3 separate regions of the Homo sapiens genome follow, and all the other regions are linked to region 1. Evidence: fine-mapped expression QTL. A gene starts in region 1. Each other region holds a variant in brackets. All regions are shown on one strand. Distances are from middle to middle.

Evidence for each region. PIP is the estimated chance that this variant, and not a neighbour inherited with it, causes the effect.
Region 2: its variant is the best candidate, but not a certain one, in a credible set for the expression of OLFM1 in esophagus mucosa (GTEx, PIP 0.82).
Region 3: its variant is the best candidate, but not a certain one, in a credible set for the expression of OLFM1 in monocytes (CEDAR, PIP 0.61).

The regions. Positions count from the first base shown.
Region 1 is chr9:135,082,521-135,093,380 of GRCh38, reverse strand. OLFM1 (olfactomedin 1) reads right to left here and starts at 5,713. Exons shown (of 6, transcript NM_001282611.2): 1 at 5,242-5,713; 2 at 3,037-3,186. The coding sequence starts at 5,391. RefSeq lists a silencer at 1,271-1,428 and enhancers at 3,449-4,252, 4,253-5,057, 5,692-6,552, 6,553-7,413.
Region 2 is chr9:134,805,686-134,813,538 of GRCh38, reverse strand. COL5A1 (collagen type V alpha 1 chain) reads right to left here. Exons shown (of 66, transcript NM_000093.5): 42 at 7,243-7,350; 43 at 4,249-4,356; 44 at 3,231-3,284; 45 at 2,147-2,200; 46 at 1,940-2,047; 47 at 1,037-1,090; 48 at 827-934. Among named protein-coding and RNA genes, the nearest start is that of MIR3689C, 40 kb to the left of the region's middle. The variant C/G (reference allele first, on the strand shown) is at 3,185.
Region 3 is chr9:134,906,027-134,916,886 of GRCh38, reverse strand. FCN1 (ficolin 1) reads left to right here. Exons shown (of 9, transcript NM_002003.5): 2 at 426-539; 3 at 2,078-2,131; 4 at 2,467-2,502; 5 at 3,274-3,306; 6 at 3,744-3,871; 7 at 4,272-4,401; 8 at 5,620-5,754; 9 at 6,842-10,860. The coding sequence ends at 7,089. Among named protein-coding and RNA genes, the nearest start is that of FCN1, 6.5 kb to the left of the region's middle. The variant AT/T (reference allele first, on the strand shown) is at 4,850.

The DNA.
Region 1 (10,860 bases):
ACTGTCACCCAGCCAGGAGGCCTGCCAGTTCAAGCTGGACTGGCTCCAAAGCCTACACTCTCAAACCCAGAGCCAAGTGCTTCTTCAAAGAGAACGGAGCCCGTGCCACACGCCTGCCACTATCTGTGTCCCTACAGTGCTCGACCCTAGCTGCATGGAACTACCTGGTGAGGCTTCCAGGGCTGTACATACCTGGGTTCCCCACAGGGACCCCAGGGCAACAGAAATCAGAGACTCTGGAGGTGGGGCCTGGGACTCAGTACCTTGCAGCCTCACCAGGTGGGTTAAAGGTGAAGCCAGGGCACAGAAATACCGACCTGGCTGGAATATGCTCAGCTGTGACCCAGCCCTATCAACAGGGCACATGGGCTGAGGTTTCTGGAGCACCCTGTCCTGCTTCTGCCCATGAAGAGAAAGCAAGAGAAGAAAAGAGAAAGAGGAAAGAAAGAAAATAGCACACAGGCCAGGGTGTGCGGGGGAAGCTGAGGACGGAGCAGCGCTGCCTCCTGCTAAAATGCACAGTGCATTAAGGAGCAAGGGCCCTCTTTCATAGCAAATGGCTCATGCCCTCTGAAAATAGAGTGCCCGCTATGGTATCAAATGGGGCTTTAAATTTTTAAGCAGTAATGCTGTGGCACGCACAGGCAGGAAGGAACATTCCAGGGCCTGCAGTCCCAGGGGCTCATGGAGCATTCTGGAATCCATTTCCCAACTCTCTGCTCTCCCCGCAAATGCCTCCTCCCTGGGCTCAGGGCTCTGTTTTCCCCTCCTGACTCTCGCCGGCCCCCACAGCCCAGAGGCCCCTCCAAGTGCCGCCTCCCCCATCTAAGCTTCTGAATAATTAAAGGCTCAGTTAGGCTTTGGTCTAGTTTGGTGTTAATAAATGTTGGTGGAATGTTAAATGTATCTTACTTTAATTCTTTTAAAATGATTTACTCAGGTGGCTAAAGAAAAAACAAATTCTATTCCTTCAAGGTGAGCGTGCTTTACGAACTAGGCCAGTTGCCCTGCGTACCATGATGCATCCTTCTTGCCCAAGAAACAAGGGTCCTGTGGCCATTCCAGACAGGGACTGGGACACAGAACAGGCAGTGACTCGGACCTTTCAAGGCCCGTCAGAGCTGGGTGGGCACTCGAAACCTCTAGCCCACCCTCTCCTTCTCCAAGGAAGGGGACTTGCTTTGTCTCGAGCTTCCTGAGGGTTTGTGGTTCAGCACCAGGAATGTGGACCCGAGTCGGGTCAATGCTGTCCTCTCACCAGGCTGCTCCCACCTTCCCCAACGAGGTGGGCAGTGACAGCACCATCTGTCCCCCCAGCACGGAGCCAGCCCTGAGTCACAGAGGCCCCCCGCCCCTCACAGGCCTCCTGCCATACTCCTGAGCTGACGCCCATTCCAGAAAGTCCAAGGCCAACCTGCAGGAAGAGTCACGGCTTTACTATTGTGTGTGTGTGAACGTGTGTGACTATGTGTGTGTGTGTGTGACTATGTGTGAGTGTGTGTGTGACTGTGTGTGAGTGTGTGTGACTATGTGTGAGTGTGTGTGTGACTGTGAGTGTGTGTGACTATGTGAGTGTGTGTGACTGTGTGACTATGTGTGAGTGTGTGTGTGACTGTGTGAGTGTGTGTGACTATGTGTGGGTGTGTGTGACTATGAGTGTGTGACTATGTGTGAGTGTGACTGTGTGTGTGTGAGACTATGTGTGAGTGTGTGACTGTGTGTGTGTGACTATGTGAGTGTGTGTGACTATGTGAGTGTGTGTGACTGTGTGACTATGTGTGAGTGTGTGACTGTGAGTGTGTGACTGTGTGTGTGTGTGACTATGAGTGTGTGACTATGTGAGTGTGACTGTGTGACTATGTGTGTGTGAGACTGTGTGAATGTGTGTGTGACTATGTGTGAATGTGTGTGACTGTGTGTGAGTGTGTGTGTGACTATGTGTGAGTGTGTTTGTGAGTGTGCGTGTGTGTGGTGTGACCCCACTCCCTCAGGGTGGGAAAGTTCCCTGCCCATAGGCACTACATGCAAATGCACCTTTCTTCTGGGGAATCAATGGGTGGAACAGAAGGGCCCACCATTCCTCCTTGTTCCCTTGGTAACTCTCCTATGGGGCCCCCAGAACCCAGGTTAACCACAGAATACGGGGTCCTTGGGTGGAATGTGCCAAAAGGCTGGTGGGCTGTGCCCATTAGGAGAAGGCCCCCTGACTAAAGTGGGGAGTGGAGGAGACTGAACCAGGTGATGAGCTCGGCCATGTGGGTCCGAGTGCCCACTTCCCTACTAACAGCTGTTTGGCTTGGGACAAATAAGTCCACCCCTTGGGAGCCAAATTTCCTTTTCTTGAACTGGAGTGAAAAATCTCACCAACTTCACATGGTTCTTGTGAAGATTAAGTGAAATAACGGATTCAAAATATGTTATGCAAACGACATATGCAAACCTGCTGTTCCCATGTGGTTCTGAAGGTGACAGCATGGCCTGCTTTAGCCCCAGGAAGGCATTCATGGTGATGAGCACCTGTCCAGCCACTGGCCAGGTACAACCATTCAAGGGCAGAAAAAAGATCTCATCTCGTAAAATCCAAATGGCCATGCATTCCTGGGCCTATGGGCGCTCTCCAAGGTAGCTGCTGGGTGACAGCCCCAGCCCTGTGCACACAGATTATGACATCACTCAGAGACGAGCCTTGTGTCCCGTCTCACCATGCCCATGTGACTTCTCAGTGGAGCCTGTGGTGACAGGGGGCAGGTCTAGTCCTCTCTTCCTGGACCACCCTTGGAAGTCTCAATCCACCTGTGTGTCCACCCACCCATCCACCCATCCGTCCATCCATCCACCCACCCATCCACCCATCCGTCCATCCACCCTTTCACTCATTCACAAATATTTTGAGTGGAGACAAACCAGGAAAGAGTCAAAATGGGGCCTGCAAGCTAGCCAAGCCTTGGTGCTGGTGTGAGCACACAGGCATGTACACACACACACACACACACAAACACACACACATACAAACTCACACACTCTGCGCAGACTCACCTTCTCCAGTAGCTGCCTCAGCTGTTTTGTGCGGGCATCCCGTGAACACATGGTCTGCTGTGGAGCGACCACTGTGCAGATACACCTGCCCTCGCTGTCCTGGGCAGAGCTGTACACCTGCCAGCTCTCCTCAGGGTTGGTGGGCAGCACCTGGAGAGGGGCGGGGCGGGAAGGGAGAGGGAAGGAGAGAAAGGGAGACCATGAGGTTGTGTATCAGAGCCAACAACCAGGGGAAACTGTCCACATCCACCCCCAAGGAAAAGATGGGAGGAAATGGTCCCAAGACATGTTTGACCCAAAGGGAAGAAAGGGTCCCTGGGAACAAAGAGGCACAGGTCTCCTGTTAGGGGGCTCAGGGCTGGAAGGATGTCAAAGAGGCAAGACCCTTTACGTTCTTAAAATTTAAGTTCAACTCAAGGGATGTCTGGAGTTTGTCGTCTGGCCAAATTGATCTGCTGGGTGGATGGGAGGGGCAACTGGAGGCCACAGGCTGGACTAGGAGCAAGGCAGGAAAGCAAACGCTGGGTGGCTTGCAGCGGGCACGTATTTCAGAAACAGGATATCCTTCCCGTAAGTCAAGCACGGGTGGCTGGCACCACCAAGCCTCGCCCTGCCGTTCCCTGACACTTGCAGACGAAGCACCCACTGTAACAGCCCCAGATCCAGCAGCCTATTCGCCCAGAGCTGTGATGAACCCCGAGCTACAGCAACCTCCCAGCCGGCAGCGTGGCACAGACCGACCCGAGAAAACACTAGGTTTCCAGCTCCTTGTGGGCTCCCCCCACGAGCCATTTGGTGGAGGTCGCCAAATTGCTGGTGACATGCTGTGCAGGGGTCACCCCCAACCTCAGTCCTGAGGTTTGCCCAAAGATCACCAAAGAAACCGGAGCTGCCCATGTCTGGTCTAACCTTGCAGCCCAGCCCTGCCAGGTACCGGGGCGGGCACTCCTGAGCCTACACAGCTCCATCCTGCTGCTGGCCCTACTGTCTCTGAGCACGCTCCCCTCCGGTGGCATCAGGTCATCTCTCTGCTATTTTTAGCATGAAGATGGGGAGGAGAAGTTGGGCGGGTAGAATCTATAGTAGTCATATCTTTAATCTCATTCATTCCCAACCCCAGAAGATCGGGACCGGCAGGCCGGAACAAAGTCATCATGGAGGAATCGCCCTCCGATTCCTGAAGGAGCAGGGAGGGCGGCCTCAAGAGGGGTCTTAGGAGGGAGCCACACCACGGAGCCCTCTTCGCAGGGCACTAAACCCCTGGCAGCAAAAAGAGAGAGGGAGGGAGACTCACGTCCTTCACCTCTCCTTTCAGCCTAAAGGGCCAGTGGTCTGGGGCGCGCCTTCCCGGCAGCGGCCCCTTCCCCGCGCGGCCCTCCGGGTGGCGGTTTCAGCTCAGCCTCGCTCAGCCATCTAAGTCAGCTCTGCCCAGAAGCAGCCCCGGCCACGGTTCCCCTCCCGCTAGGCTCGAGAGGGAGACGCGATTTCAATTTCAGAGGCCAGGAGGGAGGGGTGCGCGCAGAAGACGAAGGCAAAGGCGAGGGGGTGAGCGCCCAAGGGCAGGCTCCCAGGGGCCCCACCCAAGCCCCTCGGCACCGTCCTCGGAGGAGAAGGAACAAACCCTCCTATGGACTGGGGAGGAAAGGGCGCCTTGGGACTTTGGGAATGCAGGCGCGGGCAGGAGCTCCGGAGCCCACCGGCTGGGGCCCCACTCCCAGCCCGGTCCGGCCAGTCTGGCTTTTACAAACTAGGGCGGGCTCAGTCCCCGCTGGACCGAGCCCAGACTAGGGTCTAGCGGCGGCTCCACCCCTCACTCGCTGAGTGTGACCTTGGACAAGTCCCCAAGTCCCCAGCCTTAGTTTCCTAACCTTTTCAATGGGGGGCTCATGATTACTGACCCAGGACTCCAAGCCTCCGAGAACCCACCAAGCTCCCCCGGCCCCGCGGCGAGGGGCCCAGACGAAGGAAACGCCGCCCCAGGGGCGCGCGGGCGGAGATGGAGTGGCCCAGGCTGGGGGAGCGGGGAGCAGGGTCGCCACCGCTGCGCCGGCCCGCGACGCCTGCCCTTGCCCGCCCTGCTCCCCGCCGCCTCCCTGGGCGACTCGGGTCCCGCGCGGCGCCCGCCCAGCCCGGGGCTCCGGACCGAGGAGGGGGAGGAGGAGGAGGAGGAGGAGCCGCGCCAAGGCGGCCGGCGGGCGCACTTACGCCGGTGCTGCGGTCCAGCGTCCCGCCGCCGGCCGCCGAGAGCTTGGTGGTGTTGAGGCCCACCAGCGAGGGCAGCGTCTGGGACATCCAGTTAGTGATCATGGCCATGGTGCTCAGCACGACCCCGATCTTGAGCAGCGGCACCGACATCGCGCCTCGAGCTGCCTCCAGCGCCCGCTCCGAGCTGGCACCGGCTCCCGCGCCCAGGCGGCCTTCAGGCGGCGGGCACCGCGGCGGGCAGGGGCGCCTGGCTGTGTCCCCGCGCCCCCTCGGCCCGCCGCCGCCCGCCCGCCGCCGCCGCCGCCCCGCGCGCCCCGGCCATCGCCGCGCCTTCCCCGGGCGCCAGGGAAGGTGGCCAGGTGGCCTCTGCCCGCCGCGCCCTGCGCCTCGCGCCGCCCGCCCTGCGCCCTGCCTTGCCCGGCTGCGTCCCTCCGGGCTCCTCCGCCGCCACCGGGAAGCGCCGTCCGGCTCTGAGCGCTGCGCGGGCTGCGCGCGGGGGCCGCGGCCGGGAGGCGGGGCTCGGCCGGGCGGGACCGACGCAATCCGCCCAGGAAATGGGTGGATTTTTCCTCTCGCTCGGCTCCCCGCCGCCCCCTGGCTGCTGGCAGCGAGGTCTGCAAACTCCAGTCCGCCCAGGAGTTGGGATCAGGGTGACATGAGGAGACGGACACACCACCACCCCCAGATCATAAAATACCCGGCGGCGGCGCGGGGACTCCAGCTGGGGGCACGGCCCGCGGCCCTCCCGTCCCGGGGCTTCTCCCATCCTCACGCCGGGGCATCCCTCTCCGATCCCCGCAGAGGGTCCGCTTTGGGGCAAAGGTTGCCGGCAGAGAGACGGCGCCGTCCTGCCTACTGGAGCCCTTTTCCGCGGTGATTCGAGGGTCCCAGCCAGCCTGGGCCGTCGCCTGAAACCCAGCAGGCAGGGCAGGCTCCGAAAAGCAGCCAGACTCGCGAGGGCCTCCAGCGCCAGGGGGGCGTCGGGGCATCGGTGGAGAGCTAAAGGCGCCCCTGCGATCCCAGGGCAGCCGCGGTGCCCTAAGGCCTTGCTTGGGAGGAAGGGAGCCAACCGGCACTCCTGACACCTGCACAGCAAGGCGGGGGCTGGGGTGGTCTGCCGTGGCCCGCGGTGCGCAGTGAGGGCCCTGGGAGGGCGCACACCCGGCAGGAGCTGCATAAGGTCTGGGGCTCAGGCCTGGACCTCAGGAGCTGAAGGGACCACGCCCATGAACCTGGTGTTGGGGAGGTGGGTGTGTGGGGCGGGGACTGGGGTCTGTGGTGGAGGGGTGTGGGTTGGGGGGTGTCCTTACTGACTCAGGGGTGGCGCTCGAGTCATGGCGCCCAGGCACAGAGGCAGGGCAAGTGGCGCACGCTGCCCCTCTTCCCGGCCCTCTGCGGCGACCGCAGCAGGACTCACGCGTGTCAGTCCCACCTGAAGCGCAGGCCTGACTGGGTCAAACACGTTAATAGGGCTTTTGCATTTACAGAAGGCTTCTAATCGGAGATGAAAGCCACTTCCTCCGGGGCCTTCCATTAAGCTTTCCCAGCCATTTGGGAAGGAAAGAATCCTCCAGATCACTCACTACACTCTTCTCTGCCTGGGCGAAAATTAATCTCCCTTCCTGGATGGGATTTGAAAGACGGACGCCGGGCCGGAAGGAGCGCGCCTCCCTGGCGCCCGCCTGAGAGGAACAACGCCTTCCTGGGGCTTTTCTCTCTGTGTGCGCAGTCCTCGGCTGAAGAGACTTCAGCTGCAGCCAAGATGATCCTGGCCTGAGTGCTGGGTGTGAGACCCGCTAGTTAAATGAGCCCCTCAGATCTGCTTTTCTGATTAATGCTGTAATCTCAGGCAGCCGGGCTGGGTCGGATGCCAGGAAATTCCAACTGTTGGGGAAGGGCGCCATCTCCCAGTGTAAGCTGGGACTGCAGGCCCGGCTCACAGACTGGGCCCAGGCGGAGACACAAGTCCGGTTGGGCTGGCTTCGCCCCCCTCCTCTGGCCATGCATGTTTAACACCGATTCAAGGCCACAAGCCGTGTCTGTCCAGATCACTCACGCCGCTTCCCGCTGCGGAAGGACAAGGACCACTTGTTCTGCGGGAACAAATTCAAATGCAACCCAATCCAATCCACAAAACTGTCAGGCCATCTCAGAAGCCATAGACATTTATTTATTTAACGAAGTAAAAGATTAACCTGCACTTGGACTGCTCTAACCTGCACCTGAGCGGCTCCAACCTGCACCTGAGCGGCTCCAACCTGCACCTGCTCCAAACTGTCCTGTCCAGTTTCTAAAATCTGTGATTCAGTGGGCATAATGGTTTTGAAAGGGTCGTCAGATAAGGCTTGAGTAAGTGTAATTGGATTTAGAAGGCCATGGAGCATTCCAGAAGGAAAGTATGGATCGTTGAAGAATGAAGGCATTTGGATTAGGGGATCCATGGCGCCAGGCAATACCAAGTGTTCCTAAAGAGGACTTTCAATCCCAATTTCTTCACGACTTCTCTTAAAGCCAGGGCTCATCACACCTGCAGCTCTGAACAATCATACGGATGCTGATGGGGCAGGTGCTGCGCCCCTGGTGGCACTGGGGCTTTGCCATGCCTGGCACCCAATCCTTACTGAAGTGCATGGTGTGGTGGCATTGACTCCACTGTATAGATGAGGAATCTCAGGCCTAGAAAGATGATAAGACCTGTCCAAGGTCATATGGTGACAGCCTATTTCCAGGGCTAAGCCCATACACATGGTGGCATCCTCGTCTTATAAATGTCATGGCCATAGTTAAATCTCACGAGCCCCAGAAGTGGCATGAGTTGCATGGCCACAGCAGCCCTGGCTGTCCGCACAGTTCCACGAGCCACAGAGGCCGCCAGAAGACATTTCATGGGCCCTTGCCTTCCACGCTCGTGGGAAGGACAGGAGGTTGCCCACCCCTTTCTGAGTCCTGGCACGAGCCTGCACCACCCTCCCTGTCATGACAGGTTAGAACAGCCACGTCTCTATCCTCATGCCAGCCCCCTACAGGCCTTGACCTTGGTGGACTCTGTACAAATTCATCAACACACATAAAAACAAGCACACCCCCTCTGCATCTCCCGGCTTCAGAGCTCAGAAGACGCAAGTGTGAGAGGGTGCTCCTGCCCAGCTTGCTATAGACCTTACAAGAGGCGGACACACGTGGGCTATTGGGGAATCACCTCGAGAAGCCCTAGGACAGCCACATGGTGAGCTGATAGGGCACAGACGACACCAACACCCACAGTCAGACGACCACTGACACCCACAGTCAGAACAGTGAGGTCCGCAGGATGCAAACCTACTCAGGTCCCAGAGCCAGGAGTGGCTGCTTGGAGGGAAGCAGGTCTCTGGGCCACTTCCCGATGCTCCTTGGCAAAGGATGCCCTCAAGGGACAAAGTTTGGATGCCCGGTTGCTGTTTAAAAATACGCATACTCTCCTCAGGCTATTGGCAAATATCTTGAAGGGAAACAAGGGGAGGGGAGGAAGAAAGGGAGGGAGAAGGGGAGAAGAAGAGAGAGAGAGAGAGACAAAGGCAGAGAGACAGAAAGACAAAGAAACAGAGAGGAGACAGAGAGGAAGACAAAGAAATGGAGAGAGAGACAGAGAGAGAGGAGAGAGAAGAGAGGAGAAACAGAGAGAGGAGAGACAGAGAGAAGAGAGACAGAGAGGAGAGATAATAGAGACAGAGAGGAGAGACAGAAGAGAGACAGAGAGGAGAGATAATAGAGACAGAGAGGAGAGAGAGAAGAGACGGAGAGAGGAGAGACAGAGAGAGAGATGAGAGACAGAGAGAGAAGAGAGAGAGAGAAGAAAGATAGAGTGACACAGAGAGAGAAGAGACACAGAGAGAGGTCCCACATGGAGCCACCTCTCCTTTTTCTACGTTGTATGTAGCTTTTTCATTCCCTTTCTGTGCTGGAACATTCCAGGAGCAAGGAAAGGACCTGGCCTCAAGCCAGGCAGAATGGGAGGAGCCACAGGTCCCCTGGGCACTCCCTCTCGGCAGCCACAGAAGACCAGCATGGGTCTTCTGAGCCAAGTGTTCCCTGTACTCCCCTCCTCTGAGGCCTCTGGGTTCACACATGGGTGGAGGCGTAACTGCTCCTCACCCCCTTCCCTGGAGAGGATTTCCATCCTGGCCCGGCTCCCTGTGCCTGGCAGCACCTCCCATAAGCTGACAGTCTCCCAAACACCACCTGCATCAGGCGTGGCTGTGTGACCTGCGATTTTGGCCCCGGGAGGGAGAACGGCTAAGGGCCACGACTGAGCAGCTTTCAGAGCCAAATGTCTCAGTCACACCCTGTCTCTCTGCCTCTGTCATGAGGAAAACAGATCCAGAGAGGGCCCCTCCCTTGCCCAGGGCCCTCGAATGACAGGACATGTGAGCCAGAGGTGCCCCCAGGCAGCCTGTGCCCTATGCACACCGTTGCCATCATGAGCCACTGTGCTTGGGGTTTGTGAGCACGGCTGGCCTGAGCTGCCGACCCAGGAGATTCAACTTCCTCCGAGGTATCGTCCTTCCCCCTTTCCCTCAGTGTCAGCTCTTCAAGTCCCCCAGTGACAGTGATGGGGAGCTACTTGCCCTGGGGAGAGCATCCCACAGACCCATGGCTGTTGCTGGGGGACGTTTCCTCCATTCAGCAGTTGGCCTCGTGTCCAGCTCTTCAGTCCTAGTTCCTTGTCCATCCAGAGAGCTGACTTGTCCACGGCCCCCATCCCCCCAGACCCTTCATGCACCCTCCGCACTCTCCCTGGCAGGTTCCACGCCTCTTTCATGGATATCGTCTCAGCCTGGCCACAGCCAGGCCAAGGGAAGCCACAGCTCTGTATTCCCTTAGTTGCCGAATGGAAAAGAGGCCAATTCTGGGAGTGGTACTTTGAAGAACAGGGACAAGACAATTCAGCAGACACGTCACCCTCTGGGCTGAATGCACGTTTTTCAGGGACCCCACAAACATAATCATTTCCTACTTCCCAGGTGAGGAAACTCACCGTAACTAATTGGGAAAGGCAGCCCGGTTTCTGTGGAATCAGTCATTGATCCTGACATGAATTCAAAGGTGACATCATGATGAGAAACATCAAAGAGTCAATCCCAGGGTCCAGCTGGGAATGTGGAAAATGCCCCAGGTGGCACCATTTGCTTACAGCCAAGGATTTGGTGCTGCCAGATTCCAAACAAAGTTCTTTGCATCCAGACGACACCCGGCCTCTGCACAGGAGGCTCCCGGGCATTACTGATGGGGCCTGCCCTGTGGAGCCTGGACTTGGCCTCGGAAACGTTCTTAGCCACCTCTCACCAAGACTGCTGCAGCCCCTGGGAGAATCTCCTGTTTCATCATCCTTTGTATTGCTGATGGAACAAAGCACCCCTGGGTCCGTCAACACCCCTCACCTGCTGCCACTCAGAGCTGACTCAGTCTGTGCATCTGTGGGACAAGATGCTGAGGCTGAGTGGCCTGGGAACGGAAACCTGTGTGTGCATATTTGGGGCTGGGAAGGAGGCTGGGCAGGGGTTCAAGGACTCAAGTTGACAGCCAAATTGTTGGTAAATGGCTGGCTCCCCATTTCTGAGTCCCACTGCACTGTCAAAAACC
Region 2 (7,853 bases), 280 kb after region 1:
GGGGACACCAAGGAAAACACCGCCTCTCTGAGCAGAAGCCGCACACCATCACCCTGTGGTCTCAGCAGGGCATATTCCTCTTTAATTTCTGTATCATAAAAAATGAGCAGCGGTGGAAGGCGTCTTCCAATTTAATGGCCTGATTGATGTCAGAAAGAAAGCTCTGGAAACGGTGCACAGGGGGCTCAAGTGCATGGATGTACACTCTGTCTTCCCTCTTGTCCAGGGGAACTGGGAGAGGTGCTTTTGCAGTCAGGCAAATGCTGTCCCACCCAGCATGCAGGCACACACACATGCACCGATGTGCACACAGGAGCTCACACACACAGGCACACACACACACACGACTGGGTCCATGACGCTCATGGAGTCTGGGCTCCAAAACCAATCAGATCAAATGGAGAGGACCCATTTGAGAAAATAATTCGGCTGAAATGGAAACTGCAAGCTTAGAAACACCAGTTATTTAAGGAATAGATGATCTCCACCAGAGCTGAGTCTTGGAGGAGGCAGGGGCTTTGCTGGTGGGGCATCGTCTGGAAATTCTGCAAAAGGCTGTCACAAATGGACAGTCAGAGTTCCCAGTTCCATTTCACAAGCATCTGCCTACATTTCAAAATGCCCTTCATAGGAATAAACCAGCCATGCCCACAGAAATGAGTACTTCTCATCTCTGTGTACACACAGAGAGGTACACACACGTGTATGCACCCCCACAAGCGTGTGCATGCGCACATACACATACACACAGACACACACACACAGACACACACACACACTCCTCAAACAACCGCAAATCTGCCACCAGAGCAGGCACGAGCCTCACCTTCTCTCCCACTGCACCAGGGTTTCCTATTCCACCTGGGGGACCTTGTGGGCCATCAGCACCTGGAGCTCCGGAGGGTCCTCGGGGGCCAGGGGGACCCGGGGGGCCCTAGGAAAAGGGAGAGACCACTGAGCCCAGAGGAAACGCAAATGTTTCCCCAAAACATGAGCCGCTAGTACGGCAAGGCCTTGGAGTCTCAGGCACACTTACCATCTGGCCCACGTCTCCTGTCTCACCCTTCTCGCCTGGAGGTCCTGGCAAACCCTGAGAACAGGAAACTTCCCAGTTAAGCGCTGTTCTGTCATGTGTATGTCAAACACACACACAGCTTTCACGACCTCCACCCACACAGCACCACTGAGCCCCCGAAGCCCCGGGAAGGTGCTTCTCTGTGCATAGCTACCCACGAGGACGTCCCGGGGTTCCCAGTCTCAGAATCGGCCCGAGGAAATAAGCAGAGAAGATTGCAAAGATTTACGACAAAGGTGATTATGGCAGGAACCCATAAAACAATAAAGCCTAAGGAGCCAGCAGGGGACGCCTGGGTAAATTATGTCACCACCAGATGCTGGCTTACTGTGCAGTGACTAAAAATCATGTTTTCCAAATAAATAGAAAGTCATGTGTAATGGCATTCAACACACTCGTAACATAAAACGGGAATGGAGGATGGAAAATGGGGAAAGCTGGGAACAAACTTTCTCTCTGACTTATGACATGATTCATTGTCAAACACCAAATACAATTACATATGCGCCTCTGTGCATGAGAATACACACATTTAAAAGGCATGGCCATGAAACATGCCCAAATGTTTATCGTTGTCATCTCTAGGAGGTGCATTTAGAAGTCACTGTTACTATGTTTCTCACGAATCATCAGTTTCCACAATGAGCACAGAAATAAATGCCACTGCTGAAGTGTGGTAAATGCGGGCATGTCTGGAATTCTGGGAAGCTACAGCACTTCCAGTTGGAATGAGGAGGCCCAGGAGGCCCCCTGCAGCCTGGCTTTAGTTTTCCATTCTTAAAAAGACAAGAGGAGAGAGCACAATGAAGACACAGGGGGCGTCAGAAGCGGAGGAGCCCGGTGTGGTGAGAACCCCACAGTTACCTGCAGCCCCACTGGCCCAGGGGGTCCAGGAAAGCCTCTGGGACCTTCATCACCTTTCTGCCCGAAAAGGCCCTGCTGGCCCCGAGGCCCCGGCTCGCCGTCAGCTCCCTGCAGGGAAATAACCGGCCATGGGTGAGGATGCTGGCAATGCCAGCAGCTCTGGGGGGGCGTGGGGCTTTTCGAAGGTCATTGACCATGGATACTCACAGAGGGGCCTGGCTGTCCGATGGGGCCTTGAGGACCTGTAGGCCCAGGAGGACCCTGCGGGGAACAAGACAGAGACATAGGTAGCTTCTTGGATCGTGGATAAGGCTGAGGGAGGGGTGGACCGCATCCTGAGCCCGGGGACTGATGCATCCAACGTCGTCAGTTCAGTCTCCAAATGTGTCGTTCCTTGCACCACGATGCAAGCCTGCTGCAGGCTCTGGGAAGCAGATGAGGATCTTGGTTCCACCCTGAGCCCATTTCTGGATGGCAAAGAGCTGCCCCCAATGTCTCTCGAGACCACCGTGTGTCATCTCAGCTCCCATCATGCACCCACAACAGGGGCACGTGAGGCCCCCTTCAACAGTGAGGGTCCAGGATCACAAGCTCCTCTGGAGCCCTTGCGCCCAGCACCATGTCCCCTGCTGTGCCATCCTCAAGAGACCTCCCGCATGGGACCATGGGAAGGAGGCAAGCAAGGAGGGTACAGTGCCCTTGGCCCTGGTAGCCCAACCCACGGCTGGAAGAAGGACACAGCCTCTGTGGCAGGCCTCCCAGGAGCACGGATCCTGCTTGCCTAGGAATCAACATACTGGGGGAAAGGCCTGGCTGTACAGGATAAGAAGACATGTCACTCATCGGGAGGGAGCTGGTAGCAGAGTCATGGGGTTTTTGCAAGAACCCACTAGGATTTCTGAACAGATGAAAAAACCAAAAGGGGAAAAATGAACAGGCATTTGGTCAATGGTGCTGTCTCTGCCGGAGCATTCTGGTTCCCTCACCTCAGAGGGCAATGGGTGTGTCTGCAGAACCCAAGCCCTCTAGGACAGAAACACTCCATTTATTTAATTTCGCAAAACCGGTGGATGCTTCCTGTTCATTCTAACACAGAGAGACTCACTCCCAGATATGCACGCGTGTGCACACACACACGTTGTGGGAACACACATGCACGGGAGATTTTCACAGCATGTCCCGCTAGTCATCAGCAACGTTGGAAGAGAACGTGCATGGCACACGGCCTACAGCCTGCGACGAGGC[C/G]CCCCGGGACCTGGGGGCTGCCGCGCGCCCCCGTGCCAATACTTACCTGTTCTCCTTTGTCCCCCTTGCTTCCTTTCTGCCCCGGCTCCCCGATCTCTCCCTAGGGGAAGGTGTGGGGGATTCGGTTAGAAAGCTTGACAACCGTTTGGACCTTTTCTGTTCCCCGTAATGAATTTTTCTTGGAGATTAAGAACAGTGTCCTTTCCAGGTGGCCCTAAAACTTTCCTACGAATAAATGTTTCCATATATTAGCTTGATTTCCTTTTTAATACAAGGGCTAAAAGGGACGAGGTCTCGATCTGATGCTCGACAGGCTTTTAGTAGACTTGAAGATGTGGGAAAAGTCATATTGAAAATATTTACTCTGTTTTTCAAATTGGGCCACTACCATGACAACCTAACAACAGGCAACTCAATTACTATGTTGCCGAAGAAGTTATTAAAATCCTCTCTGTTGTTCCTGTCGGTGCAAGGCTGTCTCCCGCCCGGAGATGTAAGGCATTATCCATGCAGAGGTGACAAAGTCAGAAATGTCCCCAGAGAGGGGTCATCAATAGAAAGTTACAGCACAGCGAAATTTCACTGTCTGCGTTAAATGAAGGATAAAATGCAAGCTCCTGCAGCCATCGTTTTGGAATTATAAAGCACATTCTTAATGAACGGGAGCCTGGATAATTCAAGCGGAGACATTTAAAAATAGATACTGAGCAAAACCTCATTAAACCGGGCTCCGCAGTTTCGGAATTTGAAATTATTCGGGGGGACCGGGGAGCATTTTTCTCTGCTGTGGCTACTCACAGCAAATGTTGCAGGCAACCTCAAAATGACACAGGAGGGTGTGGTTTCTAAGTCCCTCGAGCGTGCCGGGGACGGCGTGTATTACCATTTACCAGTGGGCTGCTGTGAAATCATCCCCTAATGCCAGGACTGCGGGGTGGGTGTGGCATCACTCCGCTGGCTGAGCCGCTCTACCTGCCAGCATCCTGTCCTTTAAATTCACCACCCTCCCCCACACCCGTCTGCCCAGCCAGGCCCAGCCATGGGTCACTCTGGATTTGCCTTACCTTATCTCCGTCTTCTCCAGGGGGACCCACAGGGCCAGCTGGACCCGGGAGCCCCACAGGCCCCTGGAGACCGTCTCGGCCAGCTGGGCCTTGTGGGCCTTTCTCGCCCTAGAGAATACAGAAGATCTCAGGTCAAACGTGGCTCCAACCTGGGAACATCCCCCCACCAGCTCATTACCCAAGAGAGGGATCCGCTGGCAGGAAGTGGGAGTTGGTGAGGGTGACCGTCCCCACAGTCCTAATGGATTTCAGCCAGGGCCACTGAGGGCCGACTCTGAGCCCGCCCCTGGACCATGAACTTCTGGTGCATCGCTTCAATTAATCCACACTCATCCTAGGAAAGGCTGCTCTTTTACAGATGGGGAAACTGAGGCACAGTTAGTGAGCAGTAGAGACAGGATCCAAATCCAGCCGGCCAAATTCTTGAGCCTGTATGTGGATTGTCTAAGCTAGTGACCGGGAGCCAAGCCCAGTCACCAGGATAGCCTGAGCTCCAGCTTTCACCAGCTTTCTGATTCTTTACATTCTCTGCAGACACTCTCCCTGCACACACACACAAGGACATGCATGCTCACACATGAAGACATGTACGCACACACATGTGCATACATGCACACATGTGAACACGCCTATGTACACAGGTATGCATGCATGCACATGCATGTGCACAAAACAAGCATACTCGCATGTGCACACGTGTGAATATGCACCAACATGTGCACACGTGTGAATATGCACCAACATGTACACACAAGGACATATAAAGAAGCACACTGACATGTATGTGCATGCATACATGAGTATGCACGCACAGGTACACACACAGGACATGCTTGCAGGCATACGCACACACTATTTTTCCTGTCCTTGTAACTTTGATTCATTTTCCTCCTAACTGCCTGCTTGGTAATCTCAAATGATCCTTCTTAAGTTCTTGCTTTGCTCAGTTTGACCAGCCATCGCATCACTCTGTGAGCAGCCTATATTTTCTCACTGCAGACAGGGATCCCTATCTTCCGACAGATACACAGAAGGAGGGTGTGCACATTGGGAAGGGAAACATGGAATAGAGAATGTACATTCAATGTTCTGGTCTAAATGTAGCCGGGATTTAGTCATCCATCACTATTTCGTCTTACCATTCCTCCCTCCACAATTCATGTCCTGCTCCTCAAACTGAGCTCCTATTCATAGAAATGTCTACCCTACTTAAGCCAGAGAATGCAAAGACCACGTGTGGGGCTTTTGTGGAAGCTTCCTGTCCTACATTCCTGGTCAGGTCGGGAGTTCTCAGAGACGTCCAACCTTTGCTTGGCCTTTCCTTCCCTCTGGAGCTATTCTGGGAGGATGACGAGCTTCTGCCTGGATAGAGCAACTCTTGCAAGGTTTCTGCTCAAATATTTACTCTCTTGAAACTGTGAACCAAGCCATTTCCAGCTGACTTTGTGTGCACTCTATACACTGACTGCCCAGTTGGCTTCAGTTTTCTGGCACAGAATCCAGCTGGATCCATGTCCTGGGTGCCTCACTGGAAATGATTAGAAGACACCAAAATTGCCAATAATGTATTGAACAGATTCTCAATGGCCCAGATGTTTCCAATGTGGTTTCCAGGGAAGTTCCTGCCCAGGGAATGTAGGCTGTTCCTGCCACCCATGAGCCACTGAGAGTGAAACGTACAAGAAAATCACAGTTTCTGGCTGGGCGCAGTGGCTCACGCCTGTAATCCCAGCACCTTGGGAGGCTGAGGCGGGTAGATCACTTGAGGTCAGGAGTTCGAGACCAGCCTGGCCAACATGGCGAAACCCCATCTCTACTAAAAGTACAAAAGTAGCCGGGTGTGGTAGCACACATCTGTAATCCCAGCTACTGGGGAGGCTGAGGCAGGAGAATTGCTTGAACCCAGGAGGTGGAGGTCACAGTGAGCCGAGATTGCGCCACTGCACTCCAGCCTGGGTGACACAGCAAGACTCCATCTCAAAAAAAGAGAAAGAAAACAGCTTTCTAACAATCAGCACTCAGACCTAACTCAATTTGAGATGGTCTGCACCGATTATCTGCCAATTCCCCTGGAGAACTCAAGCTCATTCTGACCCTCTGTACTGGGAAGGAGAAGTTGAGATTAAATTGGTCTCCAGAGCTGATTGAATGCAGAGGTAGGGGACACTGCAAAATTGTGTGGCAGAAGCCAAATACGGGTCAGGGTGGACCACTTCTGGACGGTAAGTGGCATTTTGTGGGTTATTCACGAAAGCAGGCTAGCAGGAAGCATCTAGGCAAAAAGGGCGCTCGCTCATCTCCTTCTTGGAGACCAAGATCTGGGTGGCCTCAAGACATGCTCCTCCCCACTCCCGAGGCTTCACAAAGCCTGCAAAATTCGGGGCTTACCAGCAGGTGGGCTTTCCTGGACACAGAGGGAGGCGCCTTGTCTTTCCGTTATCCACCCATCCCCTGCCCCTTCTTTGCTGGACATCTGCTCTCTACACCTGCCCCCCAACCAAGAAACAGGACTCCCCGGTTCCAAACATCCTTTCCTAGGAAGAGCCCAGCCATGGGTCTGGGCCAGCAGCAGGGAACAGTTCACACAGTGGGCAGCTGTGGCCCGACCACACAGGTGGCACTGAGGCTGGACGGAGACCAAGTCCACAGCGCACTGACTGTCTTCGGCCCCTTCCTCTGTCCACGCATGTGGGGAACACCAGCATGCACGCGTGGACAGGCTGAGACCGGCCCAACATCATCCCACAGGGCTCCTCTGGCTCAGCTGATGGCGGAAAGAATGTGGCCGGCACCAGGACTCCTCCTGTGCTCCTCAGGCAGGTCACCAGGTTCCCATGGGACACACGCTCTGTCCTAGAGGGCCGCAGACCCCACCCCATCCCCAATCCCAAGGAAATACCCCTGGGGACATCACAGGGGGAGGGACAAGGCCAGACACGGAACGACCCCAGCATCTCTGAGGGAAGGGCTCCCCCAATCCAAGGCAGTACTTACAGGAGCCCCTTTCTCTCCTGCCGGCCCTGGGGGTCCCTGGGGCCCAGGTCTCCCTGGAATTCCGATGGGCCCAGCGGCTCCAGCTGGACCTCTCTCCCCTGGAGATCCCTGAGGTGGAGCAAGAAAACAGTCTGCTTCAAAGGCTCTCAGACTGCGTGGTCGTGACTTTGTAAAGCACCAGCTGATCACTCCACTTACCTGCTCACTCTAGAGCCCACAGTGGCTCCCTATGGCCCTTTGCAAGCACAGACTACCTGGTCTAGCGTTCGGGGCTCTGTGTCTTCCTGTAACTCCAAGCTCCCAGGTGCTCCTCCCCCTGGTGTCTGACAGTGTGCCCTGTGGTGTGCTTGCCTTCAATGGGCTCCCTCTTCTAGAAGCCTGGCACCCCCTCCCCTTGAGGGTCTGCCCACGGGGCACCCTCTCTCCTCCAGGGCCCACATGTCTGTGAGGCACCCCCTTCCCTCTAGAGCCCACGGGGCACCCCCTCTCCTCCAGGGCCCACATGCCTGCAGGGCAACCCCTCCCCTCCAGGGCCCCCATGCCCATGGGGCACCCACTCCCCTCTCTGCTGTGCTCCTCCATGGGGTGCGTTTTCTAGGGGATGCCTTGCC
Region 3 (10,860 bases), 180 kb after region 1:
GGGAGGGAAAATGCTTTGTCAGCCCCAATTCCCCAAGTTTCTTAGAAATATTGATTGTCATTAGTTATTGAAAGTGCCCGCTGTTTATTAAGCTCTTTCTAAATGCCATAAATTACAATAAGAGATTTAAAATGCACATTCTTTAACCAAATCCTGGCCGCAACCTTGTTATTATCCCCGCTTGGCAGCCCAGGGCACAAAGCTCAGAGGAGTTAAGTTACTTGCTGCAGGACACACAGCACTGAGGAGATGGGGCTCCCCTAGGTCGGGGTGGCCTCCAAAGCCAGAGCTCTGCCCCCCATCACATCTCCGCCTCACCAGTGCCTGAGGGGTGAGGACAGACCAAGGCCCCAGCAGAGCAGAAAACCTCACTTCCCAGCCACTGTTGGGCCAGGCACTGAGTGGGCACCTGTGTTTCTCTGCAGAGGTGAAGGTGGTGGGCCTGGAGGGCTCTGACAAGCTCACCATTCTCCGAGGCTGCCCGGGGCTGCCCGGGGCCCCAGGGCCAAAGGGAGAGGCAGGTGTCATTGGAGAGAGAGGTAGGTGCGGGCCGGGTGGGGAGGCCAGGCATGGCAGGGGCACTGGCTCTTGCTCTTTATGAAACTGGATGCAGAGTTGGGCAACACCCCCACCGTGGTTCCTAGATCAAGAGCCTGGGTCAGGCCCCTGCTAGAGCCAGGAACAGAGCTGACTCCCAGGGCCCAACAGGGTTCTGAAATGGAGGGAGGGTCTTTCCTAACTATTTCATGAGCTCACATTTGGACATGCTTCTGTAGCTCTGTCTCCTAGTCCTTGATCCAATACCAGCTTTGCTCAGCTACTGGCACGACTTCTAAGCTCTGTGTCCCTCCACCTTCTCACCTGAAAATTGAGGTGACCGCTTTCTTCTGCACCTGCCTCATATGGGAAAACTGAGACTCAAAGAGGTCACAGGCTTTCCTACTTGACAAACCAGTAAGGAGTGGGGCTGGGACTTGGACTGGTCTACTTCAGGGCACAGAGGGCACCCGAATCCTGAGCCCTGAGCTCTGCATGTGGATTTGCAGGGAACATGGGAGAATGAACAGCAGGCACCTGCCTTGGGTGGTTTTGGGTCCCCCTAAGCATGGCATAAGGCAGACGTGCACAAAAACTCAGAAAGGGCGCTGCCTTAGGGGGTGAGCTCCCCATGCCTGGACGCATTCAAGATGATGCCTGCGGAGCACTTGGTGGGGATGTCCCAGTGTAGATGGGACAAGCTCAAATGTCCCTATGACTTGGACTTTCACTGACGTGTCTAGGCTTCCGTGTGGGTGTCCGGGGCCAGGTCCTCTGTGCCCACTCCGCAGGCTGGACCTGAGAGTGCGGTCCCGATCCCCTGCTGAGGGAACACTGGGGAGGAAGACCTTCCCTGGCAGGAGAAGAATCAAGTCTGGCTCAGACTTCCCTTGAACCAGGCTTCTACCAGTGGGCATGGCTGGCTAATATACCCTAAAGCAAGAACCAGCCCCCATACACTCTCCCCAGCCACTGGGGTCAGCGAGCGGGCTGGGGGCTGCCTCTTGGCTGGCATCGGGGACGGGAGGGTCACCTTTCTGGCCAGAACCACGTGGAGCGCTGTGTGACACCCCAGGAGCTCAGGCGCACGGTGGAACCGGATCCTCCCTGGCAGCAGCGGCTGCACGTGGCGCCCACCCTCTCCGTGTGGGGACGTGGTAGGATGAGGCTCTCTGAGGACGCATTCTTTGTTCCAGAACCTGGTCCCTTGCTAGGCAGTAGAGCTCTGTGTGGGTGACTTGGGTCCAGGCTTATGGTCAACAGAGTGTGAAACCCAGGTTGCTCCCAAGGCACAAACAGGAGCAAGGTGCACCTTGCCTTGAGCCCAAGGTGGGGTGCAGGCCCCTCCCTCAATCCCTCACCTCCATCTGCAGTCACCCCCAGGCTAAATCCATGGCTAGCAATTCTGAGAGCTCCTGGAACCAGAAGGGGTTCAAGGCAGAGTGGGGGAGGGTCAGGACTTAACCACTTGGGGCAAAGATTTCCAGGGAGAATTGTTTAGGTTGCATTTTTCTCAGTGATATGTCTTTGGAATTTTCAGGAGAACGCGGTCTCCCTGGAGCCCCTGGAAAGGCAGGACCAGTGGGGCCCAAAGGTAACCAGGGGACAGACAGCGAGGAGGCCTTGAGCAGGGACCTTGGAGCTGTCTGTAATGAAATGAGGGAGGGAGAGACAGAGACAGAGACACAGACACAGACACAGAGAGACACGGCAACAGAGAGAGAAAGACAGTGGCAGGCGGACAGGGACCCTGGGATATTCCAGGCCTCGGGGCCCCTCCCCACCATTGAGACCTGGGCGTTGTGATGCCTTAGTGAGCCTGCAGGGCTGGGGAGATGCAGTGTCCAGGCCGGGAGCCCACTCTGGACCAGCCTTTCCGTGGCCCACACATCTGGGGTCAAAAGCTCATTATCCTGCCTCTTCCTCCAGGAGACCGAGGAGAGAAGGGGATGCGTGGAGAGAAAGGTGAGCCACCCGTGGGCCCAGGCAGTTGTCTCTGCAGGCTTTGTCCAGGGGAGGGGTCTCAGAGGCCTCAGTCCGCCTGCCCACCGCCCACGTCCCTGTCAATCCAGGCTGTGGGCAGGGAGGGGTGGAAGGAGTCCAGCGGGCTTTGTTGTCAGAATCCACGAGGGCTCAAACCCTGGTGTCTACAGCAGTCACTCCCAGTGGCCAGCAGGACCACATCAGTGCATAGATGGTGACACTTCAATATTTCAATTTCTGTCTTACTTATGCTCATTTATGCAAAAATTGTAAAAGTTTAAAAAAGCCAAATGTGCAAGACTCTAATACACTGTACCACGCTCCACCCACAAACACAAATGAAAACCGGAGCCGGGGGCTGAGGGTCCGCCGATACCTGAGTCCCAAGAAACAGAGGCCAGGGCGGAGGCAGGGCAGGCTTGGAGTGACCCTGCCAGGCTTGAAGAGTTATTCCGCTGTTATCAGTGGCGAAGGCCCCACTAGGGGTCCAGTTCGTCCAGCAGGACCCGCAGCGCCTGCCACAGCCCACCAAGCTCAAGCTGCACAGCAGGGGCCTATGGACAACCATGTGGCTGGTGCCTCTGGGGAAGTCGAGTCTGGCCATCCTTCCCTAGGCCTGTGCCACGTGTCCTGGAGACATCAGAGGAGCTGCCTTTGCCCATTCTCTATTCTGTGCTCAGGGAGCCACTGGGGCTGACCAGGACAAAGGCTCTGATTTCAAGCTTATGACAAGTGTCTCCTCTCCCCACACAGGAGACGCTGGGCAGTCTCAGTCGTGTGCGACAGGTGACTGATCACACCCTGACCTCGGTACCCAAGCCTTGCCCCCACCCCTGGGGCCAGCTGCACACGTTCACGCTACGGAATCTAAGGACAGAACCCTGTCTGCACCTATCATCCCCCCCTCAATCACTCGAGTAATGGGCAGCTATCACCTGAATCCCTTCCATGACAACCTGGGCTCTACTATTATCTACCCTAGAAGGCCGGGTGCCCAGGAGGCAAAGGTGGGGCAGACACTGGGAGGTGGGAGGGTCGGCAGACTGGGTGTGGGCATCACAGCTGCGTGGCCCTGGGGGCCGTGTCCCTGTCCAGGCCTCGGAGTCCTGCTCGGTCCGCACAGAAGCCTGTGGCCCTCCTCCTCCCTCCTGGGCCTCCCTCCCACTGCCCCTGTCCTGCCCAGGGCCCCCGTCCTGCAGCCATTCCCCGGGTTCCCTTCCCAGGCCCACGCAACTGCAAGGACCTGCTAGACCGGGGGTATTTCCTGAGCGGCTGGCACACCATCTACCTGCCCGACTGCCGGCCCCTGACTGTGCTCTGTGACATGGACACGGACGGAGGGGGCTGGACCGTGAGTGTGGGGCTGGGCAGAGGCGGTCAGCCTGGGAGTCCCGGAGGCCAGGCTGCACACCTGGTTGTAGAACACACTCTGGAATTCTCTATTCCCCTGGATGGGGACAATCATAGATGATGGGGGAAGTGACCCGTGGGTAAAAGTCCAGGCCATCGGGGAGGCTGGGAGGGGACCGGTGCTCTCCTGCTGTGTGGCTTGGGGCTTGTTGCCTCTCTTCTCTGAGACCGCATTTCCTCTTTCATCCTGTGGAGTCTGTGAGGAGACCAGATGGGCGTGCGTGTGGCACCGGCCTGTGATGCTCTGCCAACTACAAATGCTGCTCCTCTGGAGGGCGGGTCCCCGGTGCTGTGGGACCTCGGCCTGCCCCGCCTAACTCTGTATCCTGGCTTCTTCACAGGTTTTCCAGCGGAGGATGGATGGCTCTGTGGACTTCTATCGGGACTGGGCCGCATACAAGCAGGGCTTCGGCAGTCAGCTGGGGGAGTTCTGGCTGGGGAATGACAACATCCACGCCCTGACTGCCCAGGGTAGGGCCACTGCCGTGGCTCAGGGGTTGGGGGGCCCTGAGGTGCTCCTGCCCCTTAGGCCTGGGCCATCTGCAACATAAGCACCTCTTGGCCCACAGGGGATTGGGCCCTGAGCACACTCAGGTGGCACTGGGACCTCTAAGGGCTGCGTCCCCTGCCGCAGGCTCTGGCAACATCGGGAAGGGAAACGGTTAGAGCCCTGGGCTGAAGGCCTCTTCAGGTCTTGGTCCTACTGGCATCTTAGATCCTGAGAGTGGGAAGCAGGAGAGAGACCACTGGGGCTTGGGGTAGCCTTCCCCCATCTCCAGCTGTTGATCTGCCTCTGAAGCTGGCATCTTAGTCCCATGGAGAGCCCACGCTCGCCTCCTCCAGCCCACGCCTCAGCAGGCCCCCCACAGCCGCACTCACCTGAGTGAGAGGGCCTCCCCCCAACCCTCTGGGGCAGGGG[AT/T]GAGTTTCACAGCTGGTCCTGAGGCAGTCTGTATAATTGCTGGTCCATTATCCCTGCCCACTGCCCTGTGGCATGATTGAAGGAATCCACTCAGGTGCCTCAAATTCCTGCAAAAGAAACTACAATTAGAGCTTCGCCCACTGCTGTGTTAGTGGCTCACCAACCCTTAGAAGGAGAAGGTACACTTTCAAAATGAAAGAATGCTCCCTTCCACCCAGTGAACTCCAGTGGGGCATGTTCAGTTCTCTGAAATAACGGGAAAGGTGTTTAGAAACAGAAAGCCATCCCTGAGGGCCTGATAGCAACAAGGGATTTTCTGACATTTCCGGTTGATTTTTTTCCTGGATGCCACGTTCAGACATCCCTTAAGAATATATCCATCCCCAGCCGGGCACCGTGGCTCACACCTGTAATCCCAGCATTTTGGGAGGCTGAGGCTGGTGGATCATGAGGTGAAGAGATCGAGACCATCCTGACCAACATGGTGAAACCCCATCTCTACTAAAAATACAAAAAAAAAAAAAAGTAGCTGTGTGTGGTGGCACACACCTGTAATCCCAGCTACTGGGGAGGCTGAGGCAGGAGAATTGCTTGAACCCAGGAGGCGGAGGTTGCAGTGAGCTGAGATGGTGCCATTGCACTCCAGCCTGGGCAACAAGAGCGGAACTCTGTCTCAAAAAAAAAAAAAAAAAAATTACCCATCCCCAGCCCTCATGCCTGGTGACAGAAAGATCTTAAAGGCTGGGGCCTTAAAATCTTTTTCCAACAGGAAGCAGCGAGCTCCGTGTAGACCTGGTGGACTTTGAGGGCAACCACCAGTTTGCTAAGTACAAATCATTCAAGGTGGCTGACGAGGCAGAGAAGTACAAGCTGGTACTGGGAGCCTTTGTCGGGGGCAGTGCGGGTGAGTGTCTGCTTGGGGCTGGTGGCCTGAGTGGGGCTTGGAAAGCAGAGAGAACCTGGCTCTGTCTCCCCTGGTGACCTTGGGCCCTCCTCTCTCTGAATCCCATTTCTCCATCTATGAAGCAGACACTAGCATTTGTGTCTCTGTACAGCGTGGGGCTCACAGGACATAGCGGCTGGTATTCCTAAGGCTATGTCTGCCGCACAGTGAGCTGCCTGGGCAGGGCTGAGACGACCCACCAGCATCACTGCTGAAACCTGGAAGACGTCGTCCTTTTCTCATGGGTGCCTTGGAGCTGTTTCCCAAACTGTGCTCCATGGAACACCAGCCTTGTGGGACATTCTTTACCAAAAGGAGTCTCTGGCTACACGATCTGGGGAGGCATTTCCTACAGGGCGTCTGCTTAGGGAATTCCCAGTGCACATCGTTCGTGAAAGGCACTGAGAATTGCTGCAGCTGGAAGTCTGTGTAACTAACTGCTCCATGGAGCAAGGCAGTCCCAGGGGAGCCTTGGAAATGACAGCCTTGGAGTCTGTGCAGTCCTTTCACAGGCACGATCTCACGCATGACCTCCAAGGAAGGCAGCAGGGCAGGGAAGGTCACCCCCATTTTGCAGGTGGTAAAACCGAGGCTCAGGGGGTGACATTTCTCAGCTATAGGAGCCAGGGATGAGCTTCCGGCTCAGGGCTTGAGATAGAGGAGAAGCCCCCAGGTGAGGGCTGTCCTGAACCTACCAAGGGCCACCAGGGGACGTGGGGAGAGACCGGAAGGAGCGGCGCAGGCTGGAGGAGGGAGGTCATTCCAGGAGAGAGCAGGAGGCCTGACAGTTTGCGGGAGCCCTGGAGGAAACAGGTGGTTGCTGGAGCAGGGGCCTCAGGTTGTGGAGAGAGATTTCCAGACCAGGTTGCCAGAGGTTGCCTCCTGCTTCCCCTTCCTCCAAGGCCTGGGTGGGTCATTTGTGCACCTGTAGCTCGGCTCATGCGTCGCTAAAGTGAGGTTGGCTCTGCTCAGAGGCAGGATGTGGTGAGGGTCTCACAGTGGCAGGGCTTTTTCCAGCATCTGCAAACCCCACATTTTCTGTGAGCAGGTAATTCTCTAACGGGCCACAACAACAACTTCTTCTCCACCAAAGACCAAGACAATGATGTGAGTTCTTCGAATTGTGCTGAGAAGTTCCAAGGAGCCTGGTGGTACGCCGACTGTCATGCTTCAAACCTCAATGGTCTCTACCTCATGGGACCCCATGAGAGCTATGCCAATGGTATCAACTGGAGTGCGGCGAAGGGGTACAAATATAGCTACAAGGTGTCAGAGATGAAGGTGCGGCCCGCCTAGACGGGCCAGGACCCCTCCACATGCACCTGCTAGTGGGGAGGCCACACCCACAAGCGCTGCGTCGTGGAAGTCACCCCATTTCCCCAGCCAGACACACTCCCATGACGCCCACAGCTGCCCCTTTGCCCCCAGCTCAGTCAAGCCGCCACATGCCCACAACCTCACCAGAGGGAGAATTATGTTTCTAAATATGTTTACTTTGGGACAGAAAAGTTTTACCAGTTTCAATGTGTGTTTCTTGAACACCAGTGGTTTTGATCACTTTCCTGTGTCTGTTGCACGGCAGGTCTTTCCCTGGAATTTGGTAAGTCGGGAAGAGTCAGGACCCTTATTTAGCAGATGGCACTACCGATGTTCAGGGAGGTTGAGTGACTTTTGCGAGGATTTTCCACCTCCAGTAATTGACACAGGGCGATCCTCACCTCCACCCCCAAGCCTCCCCCATCCCCCCATGCCTCACTCACAACACTTCACACTTCTTGAAAAAGGTCACTTTGGGGTCCAGAAAACACTTACTAAAAAGGGGGAAAGTTTAGTAGGAACTTTTCTGCTTCCCACCACGGCAGAGTTCATGCTTTGGGCTGGCTGGCTGCTGGGAAGAGATAAACACTTAGCACTCACTAAGTGAGCGCCTGGTCAGCCACCTGCACAGAGAAGATTCCGAAGAGGCCTTCCTCCCACACACAGACCTCAGCTAGAGGGGACCGCGGACCTCAGTGGGAAAAGCTGCACAAGGCTTCTAGGAGATGATGGAGAAGGGGCTTCTCCAGCTCCCAGGCCAGGGGAGATTTCTCAACCACGACCTAAGAAGCATCAAAGGGAATGTGGCAAGTGTGACTCCATTCAAATCAAGAGCTCCCACTTACCGAAGGACACTAAGGGAACCAAAGGAAGGCCAGAGGGGCAGAATCAACGTGCGGCACACAAATCTTTAGTTTTCTACTATTGCCGCAACCAGTCACCACAAATGGAGTGGCTTGAAACAACAAGAACTCGCCACCTCCTGGCTCAGTAGATCTGGAGTCCCTGGGCCTTACTGGGCCAGCAGGCAGGACTCAGCAGTGGTGGCTCCTTCCAGGGTTCTAGGGGAGAACCTGCTTCCTTGCCTTTTCCAGCCCCAGGGGTCACTGGCATTCATTGGCCCGGACTCCTTCCCCCAACCCCAAAGCCAGCAGCACCACATCTCTCTGACCCTTCATCCGTTGTCCCCTCTCCCCCCAAGCCCCATGGGACAGGGTCTCCACTCCTGAGACTCATGGGATTAGACTAGGCCTACCTGGATGATCTGGGATCCTCTCCCATGTCCAGGTCTCTATCCCTAACCACATCAGCAAAGTCTCTTTTGCCATGGAAGGTATTTGCAGGCTCTGACTTTGTGTGTATTAGGGCAGGACATTTTTGGCGGGGCAGTGGTGGGGGCAGGGAATTATTCTGCCTACCATGCCTTATACAAAAATAAATAAATCACAGGCTTATACCTGAAAGAATTCCTGCAAATAATAAAAGAATTAGAGCAGCTCAGTTAAATAAAAAAAGGTATGAGATGTGAACAGACACTTCACAGAAGATGACATGCAGGGGAGCAAGGTATTTATCAAAAAGTGCTCCACTTTTCACTTACCAGAGAAATGCAAATCAGCACCCAAAGGAGTCACTGCGGCACCCTCATCTGAGCCTCAGAAGTTAGAAAGATGGATAGCACCAGTGTCAAAGGTGACTGTGGGAGGGAGATTTGCATACACTGCTAGTAACAATGCGAATTGATGGAACCAACCTGGAAAATGGCTTGGCATCAACTGTTGGAGAAGAAGACACACAGTCCTCTAACCTGCCAGTCCCACATCAGGGCCTGGATATGGCCGTCATGTGTACCAGGGAGCATGGCCAGGAATCTTTACAGCCAAATACTCACCATAGCACCAAACTGGAATCAGCCGACATACCCATCAGGAAGAGAATGGATGTTAAAAAATGCAAGGATAGCCATTGGGTAGAACGCCATACAGCCATGACAATTACACAGTGACACCTACACACAAGGAGCATGAGTCTCACAAACATGGCAGCAAAAGGAGCCTGTTCAAGAGGGTATGTGCTATGGATTCCATTGTAGATAAAGTTTTTCAAAAGCAAAAGTAGCCAATGGTATTTTGGATGCATATTTAGGTGGTAAATGTATACAGGAAAAATAAGAAAGTGATTGTATTTGAGGGTGGGACCACATGGTGACTGGGAAGGGACAGGGACAAGCCTCTGGGGTTCTGGCAATGCTCTGTTTCTTGACCCAGGTGGTGATTGTAAGGATGTTTGTTAACTAGTGATGAAAATAATTAAGCTGTACTTTTGCTTTATACACTTTTGAGTACATGTTATGTTCCACAATTTAAAAACTACTTATAAAGAAACTGCACATGCTTGGATCCAGGAACATGAGCTACAGGCACATCCTCCACTGATGCCCAGTGTTCTTGACTCAATACCTGTAAGGAGAGGTCCTTGTAGCCCATTGGGGGCTGACCAGACCCTACTACGCCCCTGCCACAATCTCTAGTCCATCACAAAATCCACTATTGGGATAGTACTTTCGTCCCTCAGTAGGTAAGCATTTTTACAACCTAGGAAGACTTAGCTTTAAGTCTAGAAATGATTAGTATAAATATAAAATATAAATATGATTAATATAAATATAAAATAGCCATAGAAATATGCCTTTTAGTTTGTTTTTTGAGACAGAGTTTTACTCTGCCACCCAGGCTGGAGTGCAGTGGCGTGATCTCAGCTCACTGCAATCTCCACCTCCCAGGTTCAAGAGATTCTCATGCTTCAGCCTCCCAAGTAGCTGGGATCACAGGCACACACAACCATGCCCAGCAATTTTTTTGTATTTTTAGTAGAGATGGGGTTTCGCCGTGTTGGCCAGGCTGGTCTTGAACTCCCGACCTCAAGTGATCCACCCGCCTCTGCCTCCCAAATTGCTGAGATTACAGGCGTGAGACACTGTGCCTGGCCAAAATATGCCTTTTGTATTAAGGAATCTGGACAGGTTTGATTTTTCACAGTCTTGTAATGTTTAAATAATTTGGCCTATTATGAAGAATCTCACAAATCCAATATAAAATGTGGAACTAACTAATCAAAATCATCTTGTAATATTACATGGAAATCTTAGTGCGTTTATACACGGTATTGGCATATTTAAGAGACTTTGAGCTCATTGCATTTCTAAGTTAAATTATTAGATTTCTTAAGATTTAAGTTAAATTATTAGATTTTTAAAGATTAATTAGTGCTAAGGAGGGTTTTCTCATTAGACAGCTGAAATGCCGCAGGAGAAATTTGAGTGTATTCCACTTCTTATTGCAATTTTAAATGTTTGAAGTTATTTAAAGAACTAAATTTATGGTATCCAAAAGCTCTAAAAAGGTGACTCTTAAGATTTGCAGGTCTTATAAATAGAAAAACAAGAACTGTAAGCCAAACTTAAAATATTCAGGATGAATTGAGTTTTTGAATTTGTAGCTTTCAGAAACTGAACATTAATTTTAAGAAGCAAAGCAGGCTGGGCACAGTGGCTCACGCCTGTAATCCTAGCACTTTAGGAGGCTGAAGTGGGTGGATCACTTGAGATCAGGAGTTCAAGACCAGCCTGGCCAACATGATGAAACCTCCTCTCTACTAAAAATACAAAACTCCGCCAGAAATCGCTTGATCCCGGGAGGTGGAGGTTGCAGTGAGCTGAGATCGTGCCACTGCACTCCAGCCTGGGGAACA